Linked DNA regions of Homo sapiens: regions 2 and 3 are each linked to region 1. Evidence: fine-mapped expression QTL. A gene starts in region 1. Each other region holds a variant in brackets. All regions are shown on one strand. Distances are between the middles of the regions. Region 1 holds the start of MDGA1 (MAM domain containing glycosylphosphatidylinositol anchor 1). Region 2 has its middle 49 kb from the start of MDGA1. Region 3 overlaps MDGA1 (MAM domain containing glycosylphosphatidylinositol anchor 1).

What was found. PIP is the estimated chance that this variant, and not a neighbour inherited with it, causes the effect.
Region 2: its variant is fine-mapped to the expression of MDGA1 in whole blood (TOPMed, PIP above 0.99).
Region 3: its variant is fine-mapped to the expression of MDGA1 in cerebellar hemisphere (GTEx, PIP 0.98). The same link has a PIP of 0.9 or more in cerebellum.

What each region holds. Positions count from the first base shown.
Region 1 is chr6:37,695,526-37,703,601 of GRCh38, forward strand. It overlaps MDGA1 (MAM domain containing glycosylphosphatidylinositol anchor 1), which reads right to left and starts at 2,358. Exons shown (of 17, transcript NM_153487.4): 1 at 1,220-2,358. The coding sequence starts at 1,286. RefSeq lists enhancers at 252-981, 982-1,711 and silencers at 1,254-1,413, 1,444-1,733, 1,914-1,973, 2,034-2,163, 2,224-2,293 and 3 more.
Region 2 is chr6:37,740,891-37,752,042 of GRCh38, forward strand. No RefSeq gene overlaps it. Among named protein-coding and RNA genes, the nearest start is that of MDGA1, 49 kb to the left of the region's middle. RefSeq lists an enhancer at 9,091-9,912. The variant C/T (reference allele first, on the strand shown) is at 4,840.
Region 3 is chr6:37,634,928-37,643,344 of GRCh38, forward strand. MDGA1 (MAM domain containing glycosylphosphatidylinositol anchor 1) reads right to left here. Exons shown (of 17, transcript NM_153487.4): 15 at 3,610-3,740; 16 at 3,278-3,386; 17 at 1-2,532. The coding sequence ends at 2,441. Among named protein-coding and RNA genes, the nearest start is that of MDGA1, 59 kb to the right of the region's middle. The variant T/C (reference allele first, on the strand shown) is at 6,270.

The DNA of each region.
Region 1 (8,076 bases):
AGGAGCATGTCACCTCTCAGACACCCTTCAGGACACCCCTTCTTCTTGCCAGGCACAGGCAGATGGGTCAGCACCCTCCAGGGTGCTTTAGCCTCAGCACCTGAGGCTGGCAACCAGTAGTCAGTGCCTATACTACCCCACAAAGAACAGGTCAACCTCCCCTGGATCTAAAAGAGGAATCATTAGTCCCTCCACCCAACAGAAAAGGAAAGAGAGAATCCTGCCCGCCCCAGCCACACATCACTAAAAAGGGACCTGGACAAACCATCCTGCAGTAAAGAGAAAGCAAAGTAAGGGCCACTGGGCCCCTGAGAATGATTTTTTGTGCTGTGGGGTTAAGGCACTGCGGGAGGCTGAGCCCAGGTGACTGAATGGATGATGCCTGCCCCGGGCCTTCCCTGGGAAAACCCACAGGATGGAAGGGGGAAGGGGTAACCAGAGTCTCCCTTGGTAACCACAGCGAGGCGTGCGGACGCAGGAGCAAGGCTGCGTGGCAGGAGGCAGAGTTTGGACACGTATCCCGGTGGGTGCGTGCCGTGTTTGCGTTTTCTGGGGATGGTGGCTGAATGTATCTGTGTGTGCGCGCAGGAAGGAAGGTGGGGTTGGGGTTTGTAGCCAAGAACCGGGGACAGGAAGAACTGGTTCAGGGAAGGTCCGAAAAGGGATGCCGGGGTCGAAGGCGCCAGGGCCAGGGGATGCCGGCATCCTGATCAGGGTGTCAAGCCCTGAGTAGAAGAAGCGAAGCCGCAGCAACAGCGGGGAAGGCGAGCCCGCCGCCCGGCCTTGGTGCTGACAGCCGGCTCGCCCGCAAGCCGCGCGGCAACTCCGGCTCATGCATCGCTTGGCTTCCACTCCGGAGGCCGAGCCAGGACGAGGTTTCGGTGCAAGTCGCTGCACCAGTCCTAGACTGGGTCTGTCCGGGTCTCCCGAGCCGACCGGGTGCTCTCAAGGGTTCCTAATCATTCCCACCTCTAGCAGGGTGTGGGAAAGTGGGTGCCTCCTCCTGACATCCCGGCTTCCCACCAGACCCTACGACCGGCCCCTGTGTTCCGAAGCAGCTAGCTCGGTCTCCACGCGCCCTGGAGAGGGCGGGGACGCGGGCATCCACTCCAGAGTCCGAGTCGAGGTCTCCACCAAACCCCGGCAGCGCGCACTTTGCGCCTCTTGCAAAGTTTCCGCGCGAGGTTAAGCCAAGGTGGAGCGGGACGCGGGCTCTTACCGTAGACTCCTTGTCCCCGGCAGTGGAAGGGGATCAGCGCCAGAAGTAGAAGGCAGGTCACCTCCATCTTCACGGCCGGTGCTTCATCCCCGCGAGGCGGCGCAGCCCGAGAGGCGGCGGGGGGCGCATTCGCCGGGGCCCCGCGACGCCCCTATGTCCCCCCCTTTCCCTGAGAGGTGAGAGAGAGAGCGGCGACGAAGACCAGGAGACTGAAGAGGCGGAGGTGGCGGCGACCCGTGTTTCTCCTCCGGCGGGGCCGCTGCCCGCGTGGGGACGCAGGGGGCGCTGGCCCAGCCCCGGGTGCCTCGGCGCGCCCGGCACAGCAGCCAGCGCCCCGACCCGAGGAGCCCGGCCGCCGAGCCGCCCCGGGTACCCAGGGCCGTCCGCGCGGGATGCTAGGCGCCGGGGACCTCTCGGCGGCGGAGGCGGCGCTTCGATCCAACAGGCCACGGACGACTGACAAACTTGTCGTTTCCCCGCACTGGGGCCGCCCCTCAGCGGAGCGGAGTCGGGGAGGCCGGGGCTCCGCTCGAGTTAATCAATCTGCTGTTTCCAGTCCTGCGGCCGCTGCCGTGGGCTCAGCGGCCCGACTCCAGGGGGCCGGGCTGAAAGCACTCGCGGCGGCGAAGCAGCCCCGGGCCCGGCCCTCCTGATCCGGGGAGCAGCGCGGGCTGGGTTCGGCCGAGGGACGAGCGCCGCGGGTCCCCGGGTCCGTGAAGTTAGCCGAGCCGCCGATAAACCCGGGGGAAGAATAGCAGCCCGGCGCCCCGCGGGAATCTGGAGAGCAATTCCAGGCAAGAAGGGCCCCAGAAAACGGGGAAAGGAGGAAAGTTTGAGTCTTTTGAAAAATATTCGCGCTCTCGCCCAGGCCGGGGCTGCGGCGCGGGCGCCGCTCGCCGCCTCCGCTCGCCGCGCTCCTCTCCCGCCGTCTGGCCGCGGCCGTAGCCCTCCCGGGCTCCGAGCTCTCGGGAGAGCGGGGCTACGCCGCGCCCCAAGTTGGTCGTCCCCGCCCCCGCCCGGCGGCCTTGGCCTGCGGGGGCCCAGAGCGGGCGGGGCCGGGCCGGGCTCCGGGGCGCGGCGGCCGCTCGGCTCCGGGCCGCGGGAGCGCTCCGCTCGCTCAGCAACTTGGGCTTTGCTGTGCTGCTTTTTCGCCCCTCCGAGCTTTTCATTCCGCGCTCCTCCCGCCTCCCTCCCTCTCTTCCTCCTCCCTCCTCCTCGCGTCTCCTCGTTCGGTCTCTCGCTCTCCCACCCGTTGTCGCTCGCTCTCCTGTTTGATTCCCCTCCAGTTAAAAAAAGGAGCCAATTAAAGGCAGCCCAGCTCGCCTGGCCCAGCCTCTGTCCAATTTCCTCGCCTCCCCCAGGACCAATTAGAGAAAACAAAACAGGGCTGGGGGAAGCTGACTGCCTGCCTTTCTCTTTCTCTTTCTCTTTCTCTTTCTCTCTCTCTCTCTCTCTCTCTCTCTCTCTCTCTCTCTCTCTCTCTCTCTTTCTCTCTCTCTCCTCTCTCTCTCTTCTCTCTCTCCTCTCTCTCTCCCTCTCGCTCTCTCTCCCTTCCTCTCCTCTCCTCTCTTTCCCTTTCTCCTCTCCCTCTCTCTCTCTTCCTCTCTCCGCCCCCTAACATTCCCCCCCAACCCCGCCCAGCAGGAAAATGTCAGAAAGCAGAAATGGATCCATCTATCCCGAGGACAGTGGCGGAGGGACCTGGGTTTCGGCGGGGGCTCTGCAGCCGCGCGCTCGCACACTCGCTGTTCTCCAGCCTTGCACACCCAGACTAGCTGGCCGAGCCGGGTGCACCGTTGCCAGCAGCCCGCGGGGCAAACACGGCCGCTCGCTTCGGAGACCCATGCCCGCAGGGCACTGCACACTTCGTAAATGTTTTGCACTTTGGGGAGGCGGGACTGAAGCGGGGGTCCTAGGGAAAGGCCGGGCGCCTGCGGTTCCTGGGGTCCTGCAGCCGCGCGAGACGGGCCGCGGCTGTGGGTCTGCAAGGCTGTCTGCCCGGCTCGAGAGGCCCCCGCCCCTTTCCAGGCGTCTGGTGCTGGGGCCGGGCCGGAGCAGCTGGCGGAGAGGTCGCGCTGAGAGCTCCTGCCCTTGCCGCGGCCCACAGGTTGCCAACAGGTTTGCTCGCACGACCCCTCCGCCAGAGCTTCCCTAAGTCACCCCACATTTTCCTCGGCTAGCCACTCTTCCCATCTTGCCTCCCCTCGGGACCTCAGGCGCCCCCAAGCGCCCCGGGGGCACACCTCCTTCCGGCTGCCGAACCCGAGCCCCGCTCCAGCGGCGGGAGTCCGGCACTCGGGTCTCAGCCGCCTCGAAGGGGCCCTCGCGGAGCAGGAGTGCGGAGAACGCTCCTCCCAAACGCCCGCGGGGAGGGGCGTAGGCTGGCAAGCGAGGCTGGTGGCCTCCCCCGCGCCTCCGATCCCGCCCCGCGCCCAACCCGGGTCCTGCTAATCTCACCTGCTCCACCTGTCGCCGTTATTTATCTCAGCGTGTGCGCAAGAATTGTTTTAGGTCGGCCCGTGGGAGCGCAGACAATCGCAGCAGCTAACAAGCGGGGAGACTACGAACCCCCCCTCCCTTCGCCCCCTGGAACTGCTCAATATCTTGATGGTGGTTCCACGGCTCTATGCATTTGTCAAAACTCAAAGATCTCCACACTCCAAAAAGGTTAGTCTGCATATAAATTGAAACATAAATTTTTTTAAAATAATAATAATGAACCGTCCCTTCCCCAGGCCCATTTCCTGCTGGGTCTCTCCTCCCTTGACTCTCCAGGGCTTAAGCCCCACCGGAGCGCGCGCTCCTGACTGCTGGAAGAGGAGCGGGAGGTGTCGGGAAGTGCCTGGTGGCATGGGGGGGTTCCACCTTCCTTTCTCAGCCCCCTTTCTGTCCATCTCAGGAAGCCCGAGAACATCCGAAGATTCCTATTCTCTAGCCCACCTCCACTCGTTTGCGCCTCCCTTGTGCCCTCTTCCGTCTTTTCTCTCCTTTCTACCCCGTGGGTCCAAGGCTGATAGGAAGTCCAGACTCAGTGCGGTGCTCCCAGCAGATGCCAGCTGCAGACATGTTCAGTGAATTCACGAATGATGCCCATCATGGCCAGATATCACAGACCTGGGATACCCTCAGGGTAGCCATCCTTTCACTCCCCAGCCCCGGACTGTTACCTCAAAGGCAAAAAATTCATTTTCTGTCCCACAGAGATACACAGCCACCATGCCTCTTCCCGCCTCCCCCATCCAGTCAGAAAAGGAAGTGGTGCCAATTGAGGGAGTGATGAGGGATAGCTTCTTCTATTGTCATCCTCTTCCCATTATTAGAGGGTTCCTGGAAGTCTCTACCCCTTCCAGGAAGCTCTCAGGGAGTGATCACAGCGACTGTGGCTCTTCCTGGCTTTGCCCATTCTGAGCTGAATGTGTACTTCTCCATGTCGTGCGAAACTGCGCTCTGATTTTCCAATTAGCTGTTCCAACACCAAACAGCAGTCAATTGCTCCTCTTTGGCTTTGGGGTGAGTTACTGGGGACAGAGAACTGCACTGACTCAGCTGACATTCTCTTGACTTTGCCCTCTCTAAACTCACACACTAGCCTGGAGGAGAAAGAAGGTTCATGATGGCGGGGTGGGGGGAACAGAGGACCAAGTTAGCCAGGCTGGGATTGAACATTTGCTGTAGCTAATCCACTTGTGAATACTCTGCAGCTAATTGTATGCAGTGTAAATACCTTGACAGCCTGTTTGTGTGTGTCTGTAAATTCAGCTGTCTCCTCCCCCAAGTGTGCCCTGCCTGCTGCCTCAACACAGCCCAGTGTCTGACAATGGGAGGCAACCTCAGAGAAGGGAAAGAGCCCTAGACATCAGTCCTGCGTCCCAGTCCTAACCTCTCTAGGCCTCAGTTTCCCCAGATGTAAACTAGGTAAGATCCCTGTCTTCCTAGAGAGAAGTGGAGTAATAAGAATAACAGCTGACACCACATGCCAGGCACTGTATTAACTATTTAATCTTCATAACCATTATGTAAGACAGGGCTGTTATTCTCATGGAATGACATAGGAAGATGTAGTGACTCACTCAGCTGCTAAGGGGCCAAACTGAGCTTTGACCTCAGTAGCTTGGCTCGGCGACCTTGCCCTCTCCCACTGTTCTATACTGAAGAGGGGCAAGGGCCTAGGTATCAAATAATGTTTCCACAAGAACTGTTTCCTGTTCCCTTTACAGACACAGAGAACAATACTCTGGCCCCCAAATTGCACCAAGGGCAGGGGGGACATGAGAGCTAGACTGCTAGACCTGACATGGGCCATAGGGCACAGGATGAGCCTGAGGTCAGGCTATCTGGAGGCTTGGTGGTCAGCACCCAGCTGCCAAGTCTTCGGTTCCACTCAAGATCATTCTAGGTCACTTCCCACTAGAAAAAAAAATATATATATATATATGTGTGTGTGTATATATATATATATATATATATATATATATATATATATTTGCCTCAAAGAAAACCTAGCACTTGGGCCCCAGGAGGTTTCAGGAACTCGTTGCTGACCACAAGCCAGGGGCCAGGGAACCAGGGGCTCCAGGCATTGAGCAAGCAGGGCAACTGCGGTTTGTTGTGAGAGCATGTTACTAGAAAGCTCTCCCATCTCCTCCTGCCACTAGCTCGCCTCCGGCGAGTGACAGCCTGGAAGAGGAGAGAAAGAAAGAGAGAGAGAGGAAGAGTCTTTGCTAGATGGTGTTGTCGCCTTGTGAGAGAAATTGTCTCTGAAAATCATACAGTGGCAGGTATTGATTCAATCTCATTGCAAGACGCTTTCTGGTCATGTGGGGGAAGGATGACTGGGAGGGGTGAGGAACGGGAGAGTTATGACCCCGCTGAAAGACCAGTTTATTAATTCGGGCTCTAACAAATAGCCAATTAATGGCTTCAGCTGCTAATTAGCAGGCAGTTAACTCCTATTATAAACTGTGGTGGCTCAAGACTGGTGAGAATGCAATCCCACCATGATACCCGTGGAGAAAAGGGGCCCTGAAGATGCATGTCACTCACGGTTTGTAGCCCACACCACCCCCCTCCTCATCCCACACCCCCAGCAGACCTTCTGTTGGTAGAATGCAGGCTGCATGGGAGCAGGGACCTTGTCTATATGTTCACCATTCATTCATTTAACAAATATTTAATGAGTGCTTACTATGTGCCAGGCACTGCCCTAGGCACAGCAGACTCAATGTAAATAAATCAGACAAGAATCCCTGCCTTCATGGAGGCTATAGTCTAGCGAAGAGACAGACAATAGACTACACAAATGGGGAAAATACGGTATTTGGATAGTACAGGGTATGAAGGAGAACACTAAAGCTAGGGAAAGGAGTAGGAAATGTAAGAGCTGAACTGTCAGAGAAGGTACCCAGAAGGACCCCACTAACATTTCAGTCATGACCTTTAAGATTAGAGGGACCGAACCATGCCAGTATCTAGGGGGAGGACATTGCAGAGAGAGGGGATGGCGAGGACAAAAGGCCTTGCGGTGGTGAGGAGGACGTGGCTGCAGCTGAGAAGGTGAGGGGAGAGTAGGAGGAGCTGAGATCAGAGAGATTTAGGGGGCAGGTCATTCGAGTCTTGGGATTATTGCAGGATGTTGGGTTTTACTCTGAGCGCAATGAGAAGAGCTATGACAGGGTCTTGTGCAGAGCAGGGAAGGGATCTAACTTTACTTAGCAGGCTCACTCTGGCTGCTGTGTAGGGAATAAACTGAAGGGGGCACCACAGTATCCTCAGCAGCTGGCCCTGTGCCTGGCCAGTAGTAGGTGCTCAGTAAATCCTTATCATATGAGTTGATTAATGAATATTAATGGGGCTAGATTGCAAGACTAGGAACCATGCCCACATTTGAAAGGCCGATTTATTTAGATTGTCTTGTAAATTACAACCATCTCCATGGGTGCCCTCAAATTTGAACTTTCCAAAGAATTCCACATCCATTATCCTACCTGGTCCTTAAAATGTTCCTGTGAGGTAAGTTAAGACATGTGGCCCCCTCCATTTTATAGATGTGAAGACTGAGGCAAGGGGACATTCGCAGACTGGTTTAACAGAGTGTGACAGAAGTGACCAGTTCTAGAATCTTAGGTGTGGGGAAGAACGCAAAGGAGACAGGAGTCCCTCTCCCACTTCTGGCCACTATGTCACGACTACACCCTGACTCATTATGTGACCTTCCCCTTTTGGCCTCTGGATTCTCATTTCCACAATAAGCACATGTGCCTGGACCACCTCTGAGACTGCTCCCAGCACTAGACTCCAAAGCCTTGTGAGCTCTCTCCAAGGCCTGATATCTGGAGCCATCATTTCCCAAGTGAGGGTCACCTGGGCTTCCTTTGTCTACACTAATGTTGGAAAAGGGGAGGTTTTGTTTAATTTTTTTGAGTTGATGGTTCAGTAGATCACAAGTAATTTTGTTTTATACTGATTTGAGAAATTTATGGTCTTCCCACTCTGAGCAGGTGTAAGGGACACTGGTTTACCAGGCTCTGCTTCCCCACTGGGGTGGGTCTGGGAAGAAGCAAATGGGCTGGAAAAGTGGAGTTCTTTTGACTCTTCATTAACTTAACAAATATTCATGGACCCAAGCATTGTGTCTATATAATCCTGGGCACCCCATTGTGCTGGAGGCATCCAACAGCTAAAGACACAGCCCTGCGCTCAGGTAGCCCAAGTCTGATAGAGGAGACAGCCCTGGCCCTAAGGGCCCGTAGTCTGATGGGGGAAGACTGCTATTACAGGGTTACAGATCCTGGAATACAAATGGAGCCAGGCTATAGATCTAGGGACAGATAGATATACTATAACAGCAACCAAGTGTT
Region 2 (11,152 bases), 47 kb after region 1:
GTTTTAAAATACTTGAATAACAAAAAGGACAAGAATGGAGGGCGAGATAGATAAAACAACATTAAAACAATGTGGATAACTTGAAACTGGTTGTTGAATTCATAGGAGTTTATTATTGCATTTCTCTTTTTATTTAAATTTTCCATAATTAAAAATAAAATTTTAGGCTGGGCGCAGCAGCTCATGCCTGTAATCCCAGCACTTTGGAAAGCTGACGCAGGAGAATCTCTTGAGCTCAGGAGTTCCAGACCAGCCTGGGTAGCATAGTGAGACCTCGTCTCTACAAAGTAAAATAAAATTAGCCAGGTGTGTCGGTGCATGTAGTGGCGTGCACTTGTAGTCTCAGCTACTTGGGAGGCTGAGGCGGGAGGATCGCTTGAGCCCAGGAGGTTGAAACTGCAGTGAGCTATGATCACACCACTGCACTCCAGCCTGGTTGTCAGAGTGAGACCCTATCTCAAAAAAAAGGGGGGCGGGGGGAAATAAAATTGTAAAAGCGAAGCAGTACTGCTACATAGTATGTGCTCATTAAGTGTTTATTATTATTGCATAAAGATTAAATAAGGCCAGACACAGTGGCTCATGCCTATAATACCAGCACGGTGTTTGAGACCAGCCTGGCTAACATGGCAAAGCCCCATCTCTATTAAAACTACAAAATAATTAGCCGGGCATGGTGGCGCATGCCTGTAATCCCAGCTATTCTGGAGGCTAAGGCATGAGAATCACTTGATCCCGGGAGGTAGAGGCTGCACTGAGCCGAGATCACACCACTGCACTCCCAGCCTAGGTGACAGAGTGAGAAGCTCTCTAAAAAAAAAAAAAAAAAAAAAAAAAAAAAGGGTGGGGGGGAAATGAGATAACGTATATGAAGAACTAGTACAGTTCCTCTACTCCATAAAAGGTGGGAATGATGCTATTTTGCTATTACTATTATTATTATTACTAACTAGAGCTGGACCCTCCTTTTGGCCCTATTACTCTGCCCCTTTATCAACTGCCCTTTCCTCCTGCTCCAGGACAAGCCTCCTGTCCTGGTCTCTACCTGCTGGCTTCATCCCAGAGGGACCCCCCAGCACCTCCACCTGTCTGCCTTGTGTTCCTGGGAACCCCGTGTAGCCAGTGCACAGTAGGTAGAAACAGTATCCATCCTCTCCCCATTCAGCAAACATTTTTGGAGCCAGCCAGACATGGGAACCGTGGTGTTCCCTGGCTCCGACAGTGGGGTTGGGACTCCCCTGCTGGTCCCGACAGTCCCAGACGCCCACAGCAGAGGGCGGCCTCCTTGGGCTCTAATTTTAACCCCGAGGAAGGTGCCAATCGTTCATTTTCAAAGCTGTTTCAAAGTGACTCTGATAAGCAAATTGCTGGCAGCCCTGGCGGGTGATTATTCCTGCATTAATCAGGGGGAAATTATGCCAGTTACTGATTAACTAATTACAGCAATCAGATCGGCTGGGAGAACAGTGCAGTGGGAGGAGGACAAGGTAAACACAACCTGGGAAAGGTGAAGGAGGCAATTTGGTTGTGAACAGAGGACAGAGGCCGGAGCCCCCTTCCTGCCTCCTCTTGCCCAAACCACCCCAGCCCAGCTGGGGGACCCCTGAGGCCAAGCTGGCTGTCCAGTCTGTTGGGGCAGGCAGGGCTCATCCTCTGGGAATTAGTGTCCAGTGTGACAGGAGGAGCTGTCCTCTCCCAGCCTTTGCTGGGTTTCCCATCTGCCAGAGGACACAGGTGCTGGCCTTCAGGAGGCCCCTTTTTGGCAGAGGAGGCCGAGGTTCCTACATCCACACCACCCCCGTCCATCTGAGGGGGCACCCTGGAGGAACAGTTACGGCTTGGCTATTAAGACACAATCTCAGCTGGGTGCAGTGGCTCACTTTGGGAGGCCGAGGCGGGCAGATCACCTGAGGTCAGGACTTCAAGACCAGCCTGGCCAACATGGTGAAACCCTGTCTCTAATAAAAATACAAAAAAAGTAGCTGGGCATGGTGGCGCATGCCTGTAGTCCCAGCTACTCAGGAGGCTGAGGCACAAGAATCGCTTGAACCCGGGAGGTGGAGGTTGCAGTGAGCCGAGATCGCACTACTACACTCCAGCCTGGGCGACAGAGCGAGACTCAGTCTCAAAAAAAAAAAAAAGACACAATCTCAGAAGCTGGGAAACAAGTGACAAAAGAGGGTGACATGTGGCAGCCAGGGCTTCCAAGCACAGAACCCAAAAGTCACCCAGTTAGCCCAGTTAAGGGTCACCTGCCTCAGGTCACTGGCTCTCCTCTCTCACCCACAAAGACCATGGGAGGGGAGGGGAGGAGATGAACAGATAATTTTCTCCGTACTCCCAGCTGCAGAGCCATGGTCCACCTGAGAGGAGGAAAGGGGATCCTTCCAGAATACTTTATGCTCATTCCCCCAGTCCTGTCTCCCAAATGCCTCTGCTCATGTTTGTTTGGTGGCAGGGGTGTGTGTGACTAAAGTCAGAACCTGGTTGCAGTTTGCTGACTGCCACTTCACCCAGCACAGAAGTTACCACTGAATGAGAAGCTGATTCCGGACACAGCCGATGCCAGAGGACAGCCATTTTTCTCCCCATAGCCTACAATGTATGCGAGGGGGGGTGGGAGGCTTGATGTCCTCTGACTGCACAGGACTCTGGAGAGGAGCTAAGGGGTTCCCAAGAGGCCACTGCTAGCCTGTGTATATAGAGTCCAGTTACACATCTATAGAGCAGGTCTACAGGGTTCCTGCACTCAGACCTGAATCTCCCTCCTCCAGTAAAGTTCCTCTGCATGGAAAACTCTTCTTGAAGGTGTCCCTCTCCCCAAAGTTCAGGATGATTTCTCTCTTCCTGGGGTGGCAGACCCAGTGAATGGGTACCTGAGGATGGGTGAGGGCTGCCCAGCCAGAGGCTGTGGAGCAGGCTGCTGAGGTGGACATCAGCTGACACTGGGGGCTGTGGGGTAAAGGTCTCTCCCCATTTTGGGCACCTGTTCTCTTCAGGGTCCTGAAGAACTGTTTCTGCCCAGTGCTCATCCCATCCCAAAAGGATGATGTGACGTCCTGTGTGTAGGTTGTCCCTTCTGATCAATAGGAAGGGAACCGGAGCCAGTACCAGGGACACTGCATAGGCTGTGCCCTCTGGGAGGATGCACGGAGGGTTAGGTCACTTAAGGGCCATCAAACTTCCACCCTCCTCCTTCTTCCCTCGTACCTCCAGTTTCCACATCAGGGCTGGTGGGAGGATGGGCTGGGCCTGGCCTAACATGACCTGGGAACTGGCCGCAGGGCTGGGCAGGGGATGTGGGTGACATGACTCTACCCAACTGGAAGAGGGGTAAAGAGTGCAGGGAAAGAGAAAGATCCCAGCCCCAGGCATCTACTAGGAATCTCTACCATGTATTGAGCGCCTATGGCATGCTGACCTGAACTCCAGTTGATAAGTGAGGAAACTGAGACTTTAGCAAATTAAGTAGTTTACCTAAATGTTATTACTGGAACCCAGGGCTGCTGGCTCTCATCTATAACCACTGCACAATATTGCCGCCCACTCCTGTAAAATGGGGCAATAATGATACCGACCTCACAGGTTGATGTGAAGACAAATGAGACAAATGCTTGCAGAGAGCATCGGGCAGATTCATTGAACATCTACTATATAACAGGTGCTATCATGAGTGCCCAAGGAGAGGAACAAATGAGTGGCAGTCCCTGTCCTGGAGGAGCCCCTGGTCTAGTGCGGAAAGTGGATGCAGAAGAAATAAACCACCGGACCGCACAGTGCGTGCTCAGAAAGAGTGCCGAAGGGCCGGGGCGGTGGCTCACACCTGTAATCCCGGCACTTTGGGAGGCCAAGGAGGGCAGATCACGAGGTCAGGAGATCGAGAGCATCCTGGCTAACACGGTGAAACCCCGTCTCTATTAAAAATACAAAAAAAAATTAGCCAGGCGTGGTGGCGGGCGCCTGTAGTCCCAGCTACTTGGGAGGCTGAGGCAGGAGAATGGCGTGAACCCGGGAGGTGGAGCTTGCAGTGAGCCGAGATCGAGCCACTGCACTCCAGCCTGGGTGACAGAGTGAGACTGTCTTAAAAAAAAAAAAGTGCTGAAGACAGTAGAGGCGCAGGCAGAGGACTGCCCAGGCAAGGAGGGAAGATTTCTCCCGGGCAACAACTTTCGTGTGGCGTTTGTAAAGACAAAGTGGGGAGCAGGAAGGGCATGTTAGAGACAGGAACCAGACGCAAAGTCACAGAGGCAGGGAGTTTATGGTGAAAAGTGAGGGAATCAGTGTGTCCACATTAAGACTGCGGGGAGGAAGGAGGAAGCTCAAAGGATGACCCAGACAGATCCGAGAGGGCCTTAGGTATAAGGCTAGGAGATTTAGAATTCATGCTAGAATAGTAAGAGCCATGCAAGAGGTTTTTAAGAATATGTTTAAAATGGGGCAAAAAATAAATAATTAAAAAATACGACTATGTTATTGGGGATTTTTAAATTTCAGAAGTAATACAAATAATACTCTTTTCTTCTCTCTCTCTCTCTCGTTTTTTTTTTTTTTTTTTTTTTTTTTTAGAGACAGGATCTCACTATGTTGCTCAGGCTGGTCTCAAACTCTTGGACTCAGGTAATCCTCCTGCCTCAGCCTCTTATTTTTATTTTTTTTTTTTGAGACGGAGTCTCACTCTGTCGCCAGGCTGGAGTGCAGTGGTGCTATCTCGGTTCACTGCAACCTCTGCCTCCAGGGTTCAAGCAATTCTCCTGCCTCAGCCTCCCGAGTAGCTGGGACTACAGGTGCGCACAACCACGCCCAGCTAATTTTTGTATTTTTAGTAGAGACGGGGTTTCA[C/T]CATATTGGCCAGGCTGGCCTCGAACTCCTGACCTCATGGGCCGCTCACATCTGCCTCCCAAAGTGCTGGGATTACAGATGTGAGCCACCGTACCCGGCTTGTGGTTAGGTTGTAACTATAGAATTAAGTTCTAGCAAATGAGATATAACGAAAAATAATATAGGAGACTTTGAGGAAGTGACCTTTTAAGAAGAAGGAACATGATACTGTTGGTGCCTTCCTCTTTCCTACCCGCTGGAATGTTAAGGTGATGGCTGAAGCTGAAGCAGCCATCTTGAGCCATGAGGTAACCTTGGGAATGGAGGCCACTCATGGTGGATAGAGGGAACCTGGAGGATTTCTTGGAGTAGAACTACCACACCAGCCCCGAACCACTCACCTCCAGAAGGTTAAAGAAGAGATACATAAGAAATATGTTATCTTGTTTAAACATTTGTTGTTTGGCGGTCTTTTTTTCCTTTTATTCACAGCTGACCCTAATCTTAATATGACTCTCGCCACGTTTGTGCTTTTCCTTACCTATCCACAAACATATACAGGCCTGACACCACACCTGGCTAATTTTTTGTATTTTTAGTAGAGGCGGGGTTTCACTGTGTTAACCAGGATGGTCTCAATCTCCTGACCTCATGATCCGCCCGCCTCGGCCTCCCGAAGTCCTGGGATTACAGGCTTGAGCCACCGCGCCCAGCCCAGATTTCTTTAATGGGACCCAAACACACTTACCACTCTGCAACTTGATTTTTTCATGTACAGCCTTGTGAGTCAACAATTAGATATGCCTCCTTTTAAAATTTAATTAATTAATTTTTTTTTTGACAGAGTCTCACGCTGTAACCCAGGCTGAAGTGTAATGGCACAATAATGCCTCATCGCAACCTTGACCTCCCAGGCTCAGGTGATCCTCCTGCCTCAGCCTCCCAAGTAGCTGGGACCATAGGTGCATGCCACCATGCCTGGCTAATGTTTTGTATTTTTTGTGGAGATAAGTTTTCACCATGTTGCCCAGGCTCATCTCCAACTCCTGGGCTCAAGTGATCTACCCACCTCAGCCTCCCGAAGTGCTGGGATTATAGGCATGAGCCACTGCAGCAGACCTACCTCCTTTATAATAGCATCATGATATTCAAAAATTGGACCATAAAAACTTATTCAACCATGCCTCTATCAATGGACATTCAGGCTTCTGGGTTTTTGCTATCACCAGCAATGTGACAATAGATATCAAGTATGCCATTCTTGTGGGCTGGTGGTTTTGTTCTATTTTGTTTTGCTTCTGTTGGATAAATTTTACAAAAATAGGCTGCTGCTTTAAAGAGAATATGCACTTAGGCCATTCTGCCTTGAAGGCAGAATAGGAAGCTCCTTGAGTGACTTCCCAGTCTAGGAAGTGTCTCTTCTCCACTCCTGCCCCAACTCCTCCTCCTCCTCTTCCATCTCCTCTTCCTCATCCTCCTTTCCCCCAGAGGATATAAGCACTTTGACCCGACAGGTGGAGAGAAGACTTTGGCCACCTCTGAGAGAGGAGGCCACTGAAACTCACTCAGAGGCACAAGCTTTGGAAGTAGGTCATTTCCCCAAAGCAAACCCTGATGGTGAATGGGCCCTGGTCCCCTGCAGAGGCATAGGAAAGAGAGTTCAGAAAGGGATGCTGGGGGGCCAAAGACAGAACCTTAAGCAAAAACCCAGAGGGCCAAAGCTGAGATTCCTGGTATCGCTTGCTGCACAAACTCAGGCTCACTTCTCTTAACCCAGGAGTTCTTAGCTGTGAAAGGGGCTAACATCCCCTGGACCTTTTGCTCAGAATGGGCCTGGTCCAGGTCTTGCTTTTTTTTTTTTTTTTTTTTTTTTTGAGATGGAGTCTCACTCTGTCGCCCAGGCTGGAGTGCAGTGGCATGATCTCGTCTCACTGCAACCCCCGCCTCCCGGGTTCAAGCGATTTTTCTGCCTCAGCCTCCTGAGTAGCTGGGATTACAGGTGCGCACCATCACACCTGGCTAATGTTTGTATTTTTTTTAGTAGAGACGGGGTTTCACTATGTTGGTCAGGCTGGTCTCGAACTCCTGACCTCATGATCTGCCTGCCTTGGTCTCCCAAAGTGCTGGGATTACAAGCGTGAACCACAGCGCCCAGCCTGGTCCAGGTCTTTCTAACCCAGGGCTCCCACACTACTCTCCACCCCTGCCACCTTGTTCTCCTACTGTCCCCTCTACCACATGGCCCAGAAGAGGGGGAACGCTGCCCCTGCTTCAGTTTCCCTCCAATTCAGGTTTGAGGCCATCATCCTCTTCCCTGGGTAGGTAGCAGAAGCACAACTCTGGAGAAAAAGCTGAGCGCATAGTGGAAGAAGCCTCTGGTAGGGCTCTGGCGGGCTGTCAGGGGGCGATTTAGGGCGATTGCTTTCCACCAGGCACATTGTTTCACTGCAGCAAATATTTCCTCAGCGTTGCTACAAGACGTCTATTTGGCAAACCACAGAGGGCCTGCAGGCCCCACTCTCTACTGGTAAAGAGGCAGGCGGGCACTGCTGATGACTGGAGTAAATCTGAGCTCACAATTAAAATCTCTTTAGAGATTGCAGCCAAGTGACTGATGGATAGGACCCCAGGCTCCATCCATCCCCTCCACGCTCCTCCACCAAGACAGATATCGACAGGGCATCATAAATAGCCTCGCATATCCAGGGCTTGCAGGCTGGCAGGAGATGAGGTGGAGGAATTTAAGGAAAGGGCTGAATTGGGCTCTGTTCTGCAGGGTCCAAGCTGGGGGCTTTGTGCAAATCATCTTGGATGAGTGGGGAAAGTATTTTTATCACCTTTCTATAAATGAGGGAGCTGAGGCCCAGGCTACACAAAGACAGATTTCCTGAACTTGAATTTTGGAACCACACAAAACTATGTGTGGCCTCCTGGGGTCACCACATATTTTGCCCTCGATCACACTTTCCACCTGTCTGGAATGCCCATCCCTTCCCCCAGCACCTGCCATAGCAGGTGATGTTGGTGCCCAGCCCACACTCCTTCATTCTTACGGCTTCAGTGCGTACTAGTCTGACTCCCAACTGCTACAACCTGCATTTTTTTTTTTTTTGCTTGAAGGCTCTCTCTGGCCACCAGAGTCCATGTTGCCATCTGTGCAGCAGGCCAGGAGTGTGGGGTAATTAATGCCTCCCCAAGACAGCCCTCATCAGTGATGGATGGCAGGTGACAAGAGTGTAAATACCCCAACTCCTTCACCACTCAGTTGGGATAACTCTAAGGTGTGTTCTACACAGTCTCCCAGAGGATCCCAGAGGAACTGAGCCCCAATTGCCCGAAATGGCAACCTCTCATTGATGTACTCTGTATTGACTTCCTCCCTTTCCTCCAGGTCTCTCTTCCCCATTCCCCTGCCAGTACTCCCCGGGATCCTCCCAAATTAACTACTTGCACTCATTTCCTTGTTTTAGGATCTGCTTCTGGGTGAACCCAAGTCAAGACATCTATTCACATTTGAATTCTCAGCCCAGCTTGCTCTCCCCCAGGAAGCCTTCCCCACCCCTTTGCACCACAGCCAACACCATAAACATTGACATAGCAGCTCTAACTTTTTCTGGCATGTACTGGTGCCTGAATCAGTTTCCCTAGCTAGATAGGAGCACTTGAGGACAGGAATACTGCTTTATATTATCTCTATGTCCCCTGATATGGTTAGGCTTTGTGTCCGCACCCAAATCTCATCTTGAATTACAATCCCCACAATCCTCATATGTCAAGGGAGAGACCAGGTGGAGGTAATTGGATCATGGAGGTGGTTTCCCCCATGCTGTTCTCGTGATAGTCAGTGAGTTCTCACGAGATCTGACGGTTTTATAAGTGTTTGGTAGTTCCTTCTGTGTTCATTCTCCTTCCTGCCACCTTGTGAAGAAGACGTCTTGCTTCCCCTTTGCCTTCCACTATGATTTTAAGTTTCCTGAGGCCTCCCCAGCCATGCTGAACTGTGAGTCAATTAAATCTCTTTCCTTTGTCAACTACCCAGTCTTGGGCAGTTTTTTATAGCAGCGTGAAAACAGATTAATATACTCCCTGAGTCCAGCACAGTGCCTGGCCCACAACTAGGGCTCTTACTGAATAATTTACTGAGTGAATGAACCAGTGAGTGAATTAAGTGTTTTTGTCAATTAAGAGACCGTGGGTGAGGAACCTTTTCTTCCTACAGAGAAAGAAATATGCAAAGAAGAGCCGCATGAACAAAGAACAACTTAACTTAGCTTTGTTTTGTTTTAAACCAGGAATATAAAGCATCTTATTGATCTGCCTTTTAAATTAAGAACAGGAAACTGAAAGCCATTCAATAAATAAAACATAATAAAAACACTTCTGTTCCAGAGTATTGCTAATTAAGGGAGACAGAACAAAGGGGGAATGGGGAGGGGAAATGAGAGACAAAGAAGACAGGGACAGAGTCAGAGATAGCGAGACAGAGACTGAGGGACTGAGCAAGACTGCTGGGGGCGGTGGGTCATAGAAATGCAGTAAGAAACTTGAAGGGGAGGGAGAGCATTAGGACAAATACCTAATGCATGCAGGGCTTAAAACCTAGATGAGGGGCTGGGCACGGTGGCTCGCGCCTGTAATCCTAGCACTTTGGAAGACCGAGGTGGGTGGATCGCCTGAGGTCAGGATTTCGAGACCAGCCTGGCCAACATGATGAAACCCTGTCTCGACTAAAGATACAAAAATTAGCCAGGCGTGGTGGCGGGTGCCTGTAATCCCAGCTACTCAGGAGGCTGGGGCAGGAGAATCGCTTGAACCCGGGAGGCGGAGGTCTCAGTGAGCCGAGATCAGGCCACTGCACTCCAGCCTGAAGAACAGAGCGAGACTCTGTCTCAAAACAAACAAACACAAAAACAAAAAAAAAAACCCTAGATGACAGGTTGATGGGTATAGCAAACCACCATGGCACATGTATACCTATGTAATAAACCTGTAAGTTCTGCACATGTATCCCAGAACTTAAAAACAAACAAACAAAAAAAACTTGAAGCTGGAGGGCACTGTGCAGCTGGGCACCAGAGGCTGGGCAGCAGGAGGGGTGCAGCAGCAGAGGAAAGAGAATTTCTGCAGACATTTAGGAGCCAGGAGTAGAGGTCTGTTGTTAAGAAGGTGCCCACTGCAAATCTAGAAGGAAAGACGTGGAGAAACTTTTGAGCCTTTGGAAGCAATATTCTTTTTTTTTTTTTTTTTTTTTTTTTGAGACGGAGTCTCGCTCTGTCGCCCAGGCTGGAGTGCAGTGGCGCAATCTCAGCTCACTGCAAGCTCCGCTTCCCGGGTTCACGCCATTCTCCTGCCTCAGCCTCCCGAGTAGCTGGGACTACAGGCGCCCGCCACCGCGCCCGGCTAATTTTTTGTATTTTTAGTAGAGACGGGGTTTCACCTTGTTAGCCAGGATGGTCTTGATCTCCTGACCTCATGATCCACCCGCCTCGGCCTCCCAAAGTGCTGGGATTACAGGCGTGAGCCACCGCGCCCGGCCGGAAGCAATATTCTTAAGACTGGTCAGGACCAGCAGAGACAGAAGCTTCCTTGAGATTAGAGGTGAGGACAAACTGGAACACAAAAGGTGAGTCACAGGGGGGCCAGTCACCTACATCAGCCATTCAAATACCTAATGTGAATTGAGCATTTCCTACCTGTGAGGCCCTGTGGGCTAAGCGCTTTAGGGGCATAAGCACATTTAAACATTTTAACAACTCTGTGGGGCAGATACTATCATCAGCCCTAATTCACAGATGATAAAACTGAGGCTCAGAAATGTTAATTCACTTGCCCAACACATCATGCCCAGCATCTGACCCTTTGTCATCTGACTCCACAGTCTGTGCCTTAATGCATCCCCACTGTCACTGTGGAGGGGGAAAGGCCGCACCGGGAAAAGGAATAGCAGTTCTGGGGGGTTCATAAAACCCTAGCCTCTGAGAAACCGTAACATTTGACACTTCTAGTTTGAGGGTACTGGGGGAGTGTGGGCTGGGAATCTAGAAAGATGGGGGTGATATCTTCTGTGACTGCCATCACGCTGTCCTTCCAGGCCAACCCATCTATGGGACCTGCCTGGCCCGAAGTCACTGAGACCCCCAAAGCCTCGGGCTTGCCTCTTCTGAGATCAGGATCTCCTCTGCTCTCCCCACCCCCTTCAGGTCCTGCTCTGGGTCCTTCCACATCTCCTTTCCTCTCCTTCTCCATCTTCTATCCAGCCCATAATTGGGTGGTCTAGTGCCAAGAGATCAGACCCCAGGGCAGAGGTCCAGGGGCTTGGGACACTGCTGTTTCC
Region 3 (8,417 bases), 60 kb before region 1:
GGGCAAATGGATTGGAAGGTCCTCTGAGGGAAGCAGGCACAGGGTGCCTTGGGAACCCCAAAGAGGGAGCACTTGGGGCTATTCATCTCTGGTGCTCCAATGCCTACCCCAGCGAGGGCACAGAGGAAGCACCCAGGTGGTGCCAGGCCAGTGGTTCCTGCTGTCAGGAGAACCCAAGGAGCTTTTCAACATTTCTTGATGTCCGACTGCGCTCCAGTCCAATTAACTCAGAACCTCTGAGGTGGGAACCAAGCAGCAATACTTTTTAAAGGACTCTGGTGGTTCTATTCTGCAGGCAAGGCCAGGAACCACTGATTACAGAATCCATTCCACCGGGCAATGGAGTGGTTTCCACACCAGGCTCACTTGTGCTGGGCACGAGCGGGAGGTGGCGAAGGTGGAGGGGGGACTTGGAAGGCTCAGAGGAGGAGCTCACAGTCTAGTTGGGGCAATGGACTCTGCACAGATGGGACAGTTAAGGAACAATACCCGACAGACGCGATGGAAGTGTATGCTGAGAACCTGGAGCGACTCATTTCAGACAGAGGCCTTGACTGGGTCAGGAAGGCAGCCGTGCTGATTGGGCATCAGAAGGCCCCGCTGCATCCTGGCCCGGCCACCCACCAGCTGTTGGTGATAATGATCACACAGGCCTGGCAGGGGGAGATGGGCAGCCTTTGCCTCGGTTCCCCGCCTGCCTCCTGGCACTGCAGTGCTGCCCGAGTTCCAGGCCTCTTCTCTGCAGCTGTCCCCACCAAATGCTCCAGAAGGAGCCCTGTGATGCTCCTCACCAAAGGTGCTTGCATTCAATAGGGTCATCTGTAAGCTCTCCGTCATCCATAGGGGATGAAAGGTGGAATTTCAGGCCATCGCAGGCAGCTTGAGACTACAGAACAGGGCTGGACAGAGTCTATTCAGCCAGCACCCTACAAGCGAACACATCACTCAGGAAGGTGGACACACACGCTGACGTACACGGACATTCATAGAAACGAATGGGTCTCAATCCAGTCTCACAGGCAGATATGTGAGATTGCACACACAGACCTGTGTTTGCACACACTCCTGCCCAACAATGTACCCACGGTGGTACCTAGACACAGACGGGCACAAACACATACACACATATGCACGCATGCCTAAAGAGTCATTCTAGAAGGGGCTGGGCCTTCTCTCTCCCATGGATGGCTAGGTGGGGGCTCAGGTGATGTCAAGGAGGAAAGATCTAGATCCCATCATGTCAATCTCAGGTGCCTAACCCAGGACCCAAGGACAGGGATCCCTTTCACAGCTCCCAGAGAGTGAGGGGACTGGCACCTGCTCCCTCCACCAATCCCAGCTCTATAAGCCCCTCCTCCTTCACTGCCCCTGGGTGGAGAAGGGAACTTTCAACTAGACAGTGCTTTTTGGCATTTTGCCCTGTACACACCCTCCTATCCAGGGCACCCTTTCATGCCAAGTAGATAAGAAATGAAGGCCCCTCTCCACTTCCAAATTCATTGTCTGATATGGGGGCACCAAATCACAGAAGCGGGACGTCTCTTCTGCCTTTCTCCAAGTCAAGCCTCACCCCAGAAAATGGGCTGGCCACCGCTCCCCCAGCTCCTCTGAGACCCAGCTGGGGGCTGAGGCTAGGAGAGAACCGTGTTCTCAGGAGTCCCACTGCTTGTAGGGTGGAGTGGGGAAGTTATCAGTCTTCAGACTGCCCAGGCCCAAGACCCTGTGCTGGGTCCCTTCAAAGGGTGCACACTGAGGAGGGAAATATGGTGTCCCAGAAATAGGTCAAGGAATCTGGGGTGACCTATGGTCTCCACCATCCAGTGCTCACTCTGGACAGAATCGTGTGCAGCAGGTGCCCTACCTTCCTTGTCTCCTGGACGTGGGACAGTCACAGAGCTCGCAAAGTCCCACCTGTTCGTCCTCTGATCCCTGCCTCTCCCATCTCAGGAGTCCCAGAGTCTGACCAAGGGAGGGGCTCCATGTCTGCCCCACTTCTGGCTCCCTTCTGGCAAAGCCACCAGGCTGGAGTTCGGCCTTGACTTAGGGGACAGGGTAAAGTCAGAAGCACACCACGAGTGCAGCAAGGACAAGGCCTATGTTGCGCCGAGGTCCCTGGGTTGGCGGATGCCATTCAGGCAAGTCCCCTGTCTTTGCAGTAAAGAAGGTGCTGGCAGGTCAGATAGAAACTTGTGCTTTAATATATCTCTGTGTGTGTGAGCATGAGTGTGTGCGTGTGTGCAAGTGGAACAGCTGTCTCCAGGGCCTCAGTGCCTGGCCTCTGTCCTTGTTCTCTGCTCATCCTTGCAGCCAATGCAGGCCCCCTCCCTGGCGGGCCGGCCCTGCCCCTGGGCACCCCAGCTGGCGGGGGTCAGTCTTTGGTACAATGTGGACACTTTGGTGTGCCGGGGGCAAGGTTGGGGGGGTGGCCACACAGCTCTCATCATCTCTGCAACGCCAAGAGGAAGATGGCCATGGGCCCCCACAGCTGTGGGCTGGACTGGCAGGGGGCTCCACTGCCCGGCATCACCACCACTGCAACAGGGGAGAAAGAGGAGACAGGCCAGGGCTCTGGTCAGCTCTGGCAGGGGCAGGAAGTGGCAGGCAGGTCGGCACTGTTACTCTGCCCACCTCTTTGGAGGGCCTGAGGGTGGGCACTGGCCTCAGTGCACACAGACAAACTCACCGCACAGACATGAGGTGGCGTGGGGTGGGGTGGGGGTTAGCTCAGCCTGCCAGGGTTCACATTCACTAAGACTTGGAACAATTTACTTGACCTCAGTGGGCCTCAGTTTCCTCATCTGTAAAATGGGTCCAATGGTGTGTACTACCCCAAAGGACTGTTGTGAGGATTAACTGTTGTGAGGTAAGTGAAACATGCATATACAAGTTTGTGTGCCTTGCCTGGTACAGAGTAATTGCTCAGTAAGTAGGAGCTGTTAGTATTGGAAACCTCTGGCCCTGGAAGGCACACGTTCACCTCTGGAGCCAGAGGTACGCACAGATGTATTCAGACACAGGCACAGGAGGCGCTCTGATACCGTGAACAGGTCAGTATGCTCATCACGAGGGTGGGGGCCAGGCTTCTCATTGTTTACACAAGTACACAGCCTGAGTGAGTGTGGGGCACACCTTCACACAGTCAGAGCCACATGATTCCCATCACTCAGACATTCTGAACCCCTATTCAGACCCAAACACCCTCCCTCAACAGACAGGAACCCCCGCCACGCACAGCTCCCTCCAGATTCAGCTCCCCCACCTCCTTCCCGTCTTGCACCTTTATTGGGATCCGTCTGCTTCCGGGGACACTCCCCCTTCTTCAGTGTGACGTCATCTATGGCAATATCCCCCAGGTAGCCCGGGCCTCGAACCCCCTCAAAAATAATCTGGGGTGGGGTCAGAAAGCAAGGAGCAAGGGTTGAGGAGGTTCTGCTGGGTACCAGAGTGCTCCCTCGACCCCACCTTTCCCCTTAATCTACCTGGAAGTTCCCCCTAACCTGACTCTTTCCATCCTTAGCCCCCAGGAAGAAGGACAAGGTTTTCCTAAGTGTTTCCTGGCCACAGCAACCACCGAAGCCGGGGAGGGTCCTCTGGGCCCTACGGACTCACCTGGAAGGGCCCACTGGGGCTGATGGGCACATGGGCCTGCTGCCACACATTGCCCTTATTGCCACTGAGAGACCAGGCGTGCGTGTCCAGAGCCCCTTTGTTCCGGGACCGCACCAGGAGGTTGAGGGAGCCTGCGGTGGGTGTGAAGACAGTGGGCAGTGAGATCTGGCCAGGGCACCCTCACCTTTCCACATTTACCAAGCCCTCTTCTCCCACCATAGCCTGCAGCCCTGTCCCTGTTGACAGGACCTCCTCCCCATGCCCAGCTGGGTGCAATGTCCCATTCCTGCAGGGACACCCTCAGTGTGGGAAAGAGAAGACTTCAGCAGGATTTCATTTCATCAGGATGACTTGCAAATTTTCTTTCATTTCTTTCCTGCCCTGCTAATCAGCTAATCTCCCCAACCCCAAACACACACATGCACACACACCCTACCCTTCCCCTCTAGGCAAGGGAGCTGTCCCAGGGCAGTGGGACCTCTGTCTGGGCACGCAGCAGGGTTTCCAAAGAAAACAGTGTGTCCCTGTTGGCAGTACATGACTTGTGGAGGGAGATGAAGGGCTTTTAAAATGTTTAATACCCAGTTGGCAAGAGGAGTATGTTGGGTCCAGTAAGGCCCAGTAAGGTCCAGTAATACCCAGTTGGCAAGAGGAGTATGTTGGGTCCAGAAGGCCAGAGAGGACAGTCTGTGTGACTGTCCGTGCTCTGCATTCCCCATGGGGTGGAATAAACACCAGCAAGTGAAAGCTTGCAGGAGGCAGATTTGAACTGCATCTAAGGAAGACCCTGGATGTATCGGATTTGCCCAGCAAAAGAGTGGGCTGTCTTGGGGGAGCATCCTGTCCCTGGACAGGACTATCCAGCAGGGCTGCTGCGGAGGGGACCCCTGTCTCCAATCATGTTACCCCCTCTGCTCAGTCTCCTTTGAGGCTTCCCATCGCTGTCCTTCTCCTGGCCTTCCACACCTGATCTGGGCGCTGTCAGCTTCTCTGATCTCATTTGCTGCCACTCGGGTCTAGCAAACTGGTATCCTTGCTTTTCTTTCAACACTTGAGGGCCAGTTCCTGCCTTAGGGCCTTTGCTTGTGATGTTGCCCCTGCCTGGAACATTCTTCCCTCCCTCAAGGAAGTCCCTGACCACCCCATGTAAAATAGCTCTCTGTTCTTTTTTCTGCATTATTTTCTTTATAAGGCTTGGCACCAGTAGACTGTAAGCTCTTCAAGGACAGGGGCCTTTGTCTTGTTCTAGTGTCCTAGAACAGTGCCTGGCATATAATGGTGCTCAATTAGTTAAGTGAATGAATAGATGGATGAATAAATGAATGATAGGATTTGGTCTTCATGAACCCTGAGGTCCTTCCAACTCTGAGATTCTATGAAAGTCCTTGATAAGAGTTACGGAAAATTCTTCATTCAGAATTTAATTATTGGAACTGATAGGAGTTTGACACAGACCTTCCTGCAAGGAGTCAAATAGGGAAGGGAAGATGTGAATCCCAGGGACTGCCATACCGCAGAGCAGAGAGTGGTCTGGGCCTGGGGAGCTGTACGTTAAGGACTCAGAGTTCACCGGAAGGATAGAGGGCTCCCAGCTCAAACCTAGGAAGACTTCTGGAGGAGGTGGTGTTTTTGACAGCCCTTGAGGAGTGGGAAGGATTTGGCCAGGGGAATGTGGTAAGAGGGCATGTTAAGCAGAGGGAATAGGCTGAGCAAAAGCCCAGAGGCTGGAAAGCTGGAGTCTATCCAGGCACTAGCATACAGTTCTGCTTGGCTTTAGATGTGGCAAGACAGATACGGAGGAGTGTAGTGAGCAAAGCTCATTCTTTTTTCGGAGGGGGCGGTGCGGGGACAGGGTCTTGGTGGTACAATCATGGCTCACTGCAACCTCAAACTTCTGGGCTCAATAATCCTCCCACCTCAGCCTCCCAAGTAGCTAGGACCGTAGGCACGCACCACCACACCTGGCTAATTTTAAAAGTTTTTTAGTAGAGATGGGGTCTCGCTATGTTGCCCAGGCTGGTCTAGAACTCCTGGCCTCCAAAAGCACTGGGATTACAGGCGTGAGCCACTGAGCCTGAACAGGCCCTTTTCAAAAGGAAGGTTGGGGGTCCTGGATGTCCTCTGTAAAGGGATGTCAGGAAGCCCCTGAGCAGGGGGGACATTGGAGCTGATGGGGTGCTGAGGGGAGGGGACGGTGAAAAAGCAGCCTTCCCCATCAGTGTCCTTGGGGCAGGGCAGTGGAGGAGGAAGAAATGGTATGGGAATTGAGGCTAGATCCCAGGGGAATGGGGACAGGGGGCATATCTCCAGGAGGGAGAAGAGAGAGCCGTTCCTTTGGGGCTGGTGAGGATCCTGGAAGACACTGGGGCTTGGGCCCTGTGAAAGCCAGGGTGAGTACCTCCTGTTCTACTGGGTGCTGGCACAGCCTCTCAAGGTCCCACCCCCTGCTGGCGAAGGTGCCTCCACATGCCGGGAAACTTCAATGTGCTCCTCTGCCTGGCTTTGCCATGGGGGACAGGGTGTTTCTTGCTATCCTAGTTCCTCTTCCCTCCTCCCCTCCCACTCTGCCTGGCAGCTCTGGGCACCAGCTGTCCCCAGACCTTGTGTCTTGCTGGCTCTCCTTGGTCCAAGCCAACTCATTTCATCCCAGGCAGGTAACA[T/C]TTGGTGGCTCTCTCCCACCAGGGGGTCTGTCTATCTGGTGTCACAGATGGTACACCTTTGTCTATGGGAAGTGCCATGGAAATGCCAGCCAACGGGCACCATCTAAGATTGATTCCCCTTCCCTCAGAGCCAGGTATCTCATATCACTGCGGGCTGGAGGTGAGCTGGAAGGGACAGGGAGGGGGCATTGGTGTTGTCTGGGCACTCTTAGCCAAGTTCTGATCACCTCCTTCTCCTCTAGCACCCCTCAGTTACCCCAGAATTCCAGGTCCCTATGGCTATGGGCAAATGGGCTGAGCACCCCCAGGCTAATGCCTCCAAAATCTCCCCTTTCGCTATCTTGACCAAGTTATGTAACACATGTGCTAATATCTTTCTTTAAACTAACTCACTCTTTTTTTCTTTTTTGAACTTTGTCATAAGCATCAGTATTAGAGAAATACTGAGTTTTAAGGGCTAGCTTTATTCACCACATAAAACATAGCCAGTGCTAAAATTAGGAAAGATGGGAGTAAACCCAAATGAACTGGTTGTCCTACCTGGGGAAGCCAAATGGAAATGAGAGGACTCGGCAGGGTGGTGGAGTCCTGGTCATCCACTCTCACCTACCCCAGAAGAAGCTTCTTATGAAGTCCAGACCCAGCCACGGGCAAAATGATCTGTGCAAATGGTTTGGGAGCCCCAGTGGATGCAGAATCTTCTATCCCACTCCATTCTTGTTCATCAGTTCAGCTTGACCCATCACCCTAGCTGTGGAAACTTCTCCACGATGAGCCTTTATATCTACATTTGCTTAAAGTCACTCCGTCTACCATTACGGCTGAGGAAAACAGTGAAGATGCTTTCTGTGGACTGACAAGGAATAATCACCAAGATGATGTACAATTCAGAGGGAAAAAGCAAGTATAGGATGGTATGTGTAAAATGGGAGGAAATAGATTATATATATGTATATATATATATATATGTACTGGTTTCTTTCTTTTTTTTTTTTTTTTTGAGACGGAGTCTTACTCTGTCACTCAGGCTGGGAGTGCAGTGGCGTGATCTCGGCTCACGGCAACCTCCACCTCCTGGGTTCAAGCAATTCTCCCTACCTCAGCCTCCTTACAGGCACCTGCCATCACGTGAGCCTGGCTAATTTTTGTATTTTTAGTAGAGACGAGGTTTCGCCATGTTAGCCAGGCTGGTCTCGAACTCTTGATCTCAGGTGTCCCGCCCGCCTCGGCCTCCCAAAGTGCTGGGATTACAGGTGTGAGCCACCTCACCCGGCCATATGTACTGGTTTCTATTGGATAAAGTATCTCTGAAAATTTGCCCTAAAATCTAGTCTATTAATCACCTTTGGCAGATCAACTGGGATGGGAGGGCGTCTGCATTATGTGCCCTTTTGTACCTTTTGGCCTTTGTGAAATGTATTACCTTTCCTATAAACAAGTAAACAAACAAAAACAATTTTAAAAAAATCATGATGTCCTCAGCAGAGTCTTCCATGACCATGCCGCGGGGTCAGGCAGGTCTCCCTGTTACCACCAGTCTCAGCCCCTGTCCTTCCACTGCCACAGGGGTCACTAACTCCTGGCTGGTAGCATGAGTTGTTTAATACCTGTCTCTCCCACTTGCCTGTAAATGCCAAGAGGATGGGGAACTCGTCCACCTCGTTCACTACAGCACCTGATACCTGGAACTGAGCAGGAGCTCTGGAAGTGATGGCTGACACTGGTTATGTGACGCTCCTACCAGTACCATTGCCTGCCAAAGGGCACTCCTTATGTTCACTCCCTCACTTGGGAAGCAGGACTTCCTCTCACTGCCCACAAAGAAGCACCCTTCCGATCTCATGTTTAGGGCTTGGAGAAGTCACACAGATCTAGCTTACTGTGTGGTCTGGGAAAAATGCTTGACGTCTCTGAGTTGGATGGTAACACTTCCCTCATCTGGTGGCTGTGAGGGTTAATGCAATCAAGGATGCGGCGCACCCAGGACATCACCTGGCAGTCACTCCATATTTGCATCCTCTTAGTTGTCTTCTCCATCCCCTCCACTTCCATCTCATCCTGCTGGAGTCTTTTCTTTTTCCTTTTTTTTTTTTGAAATGGAGTTTTGCTCTTGCTGCCCAGGATGGAGTGCAATGGTACAATCTCAGC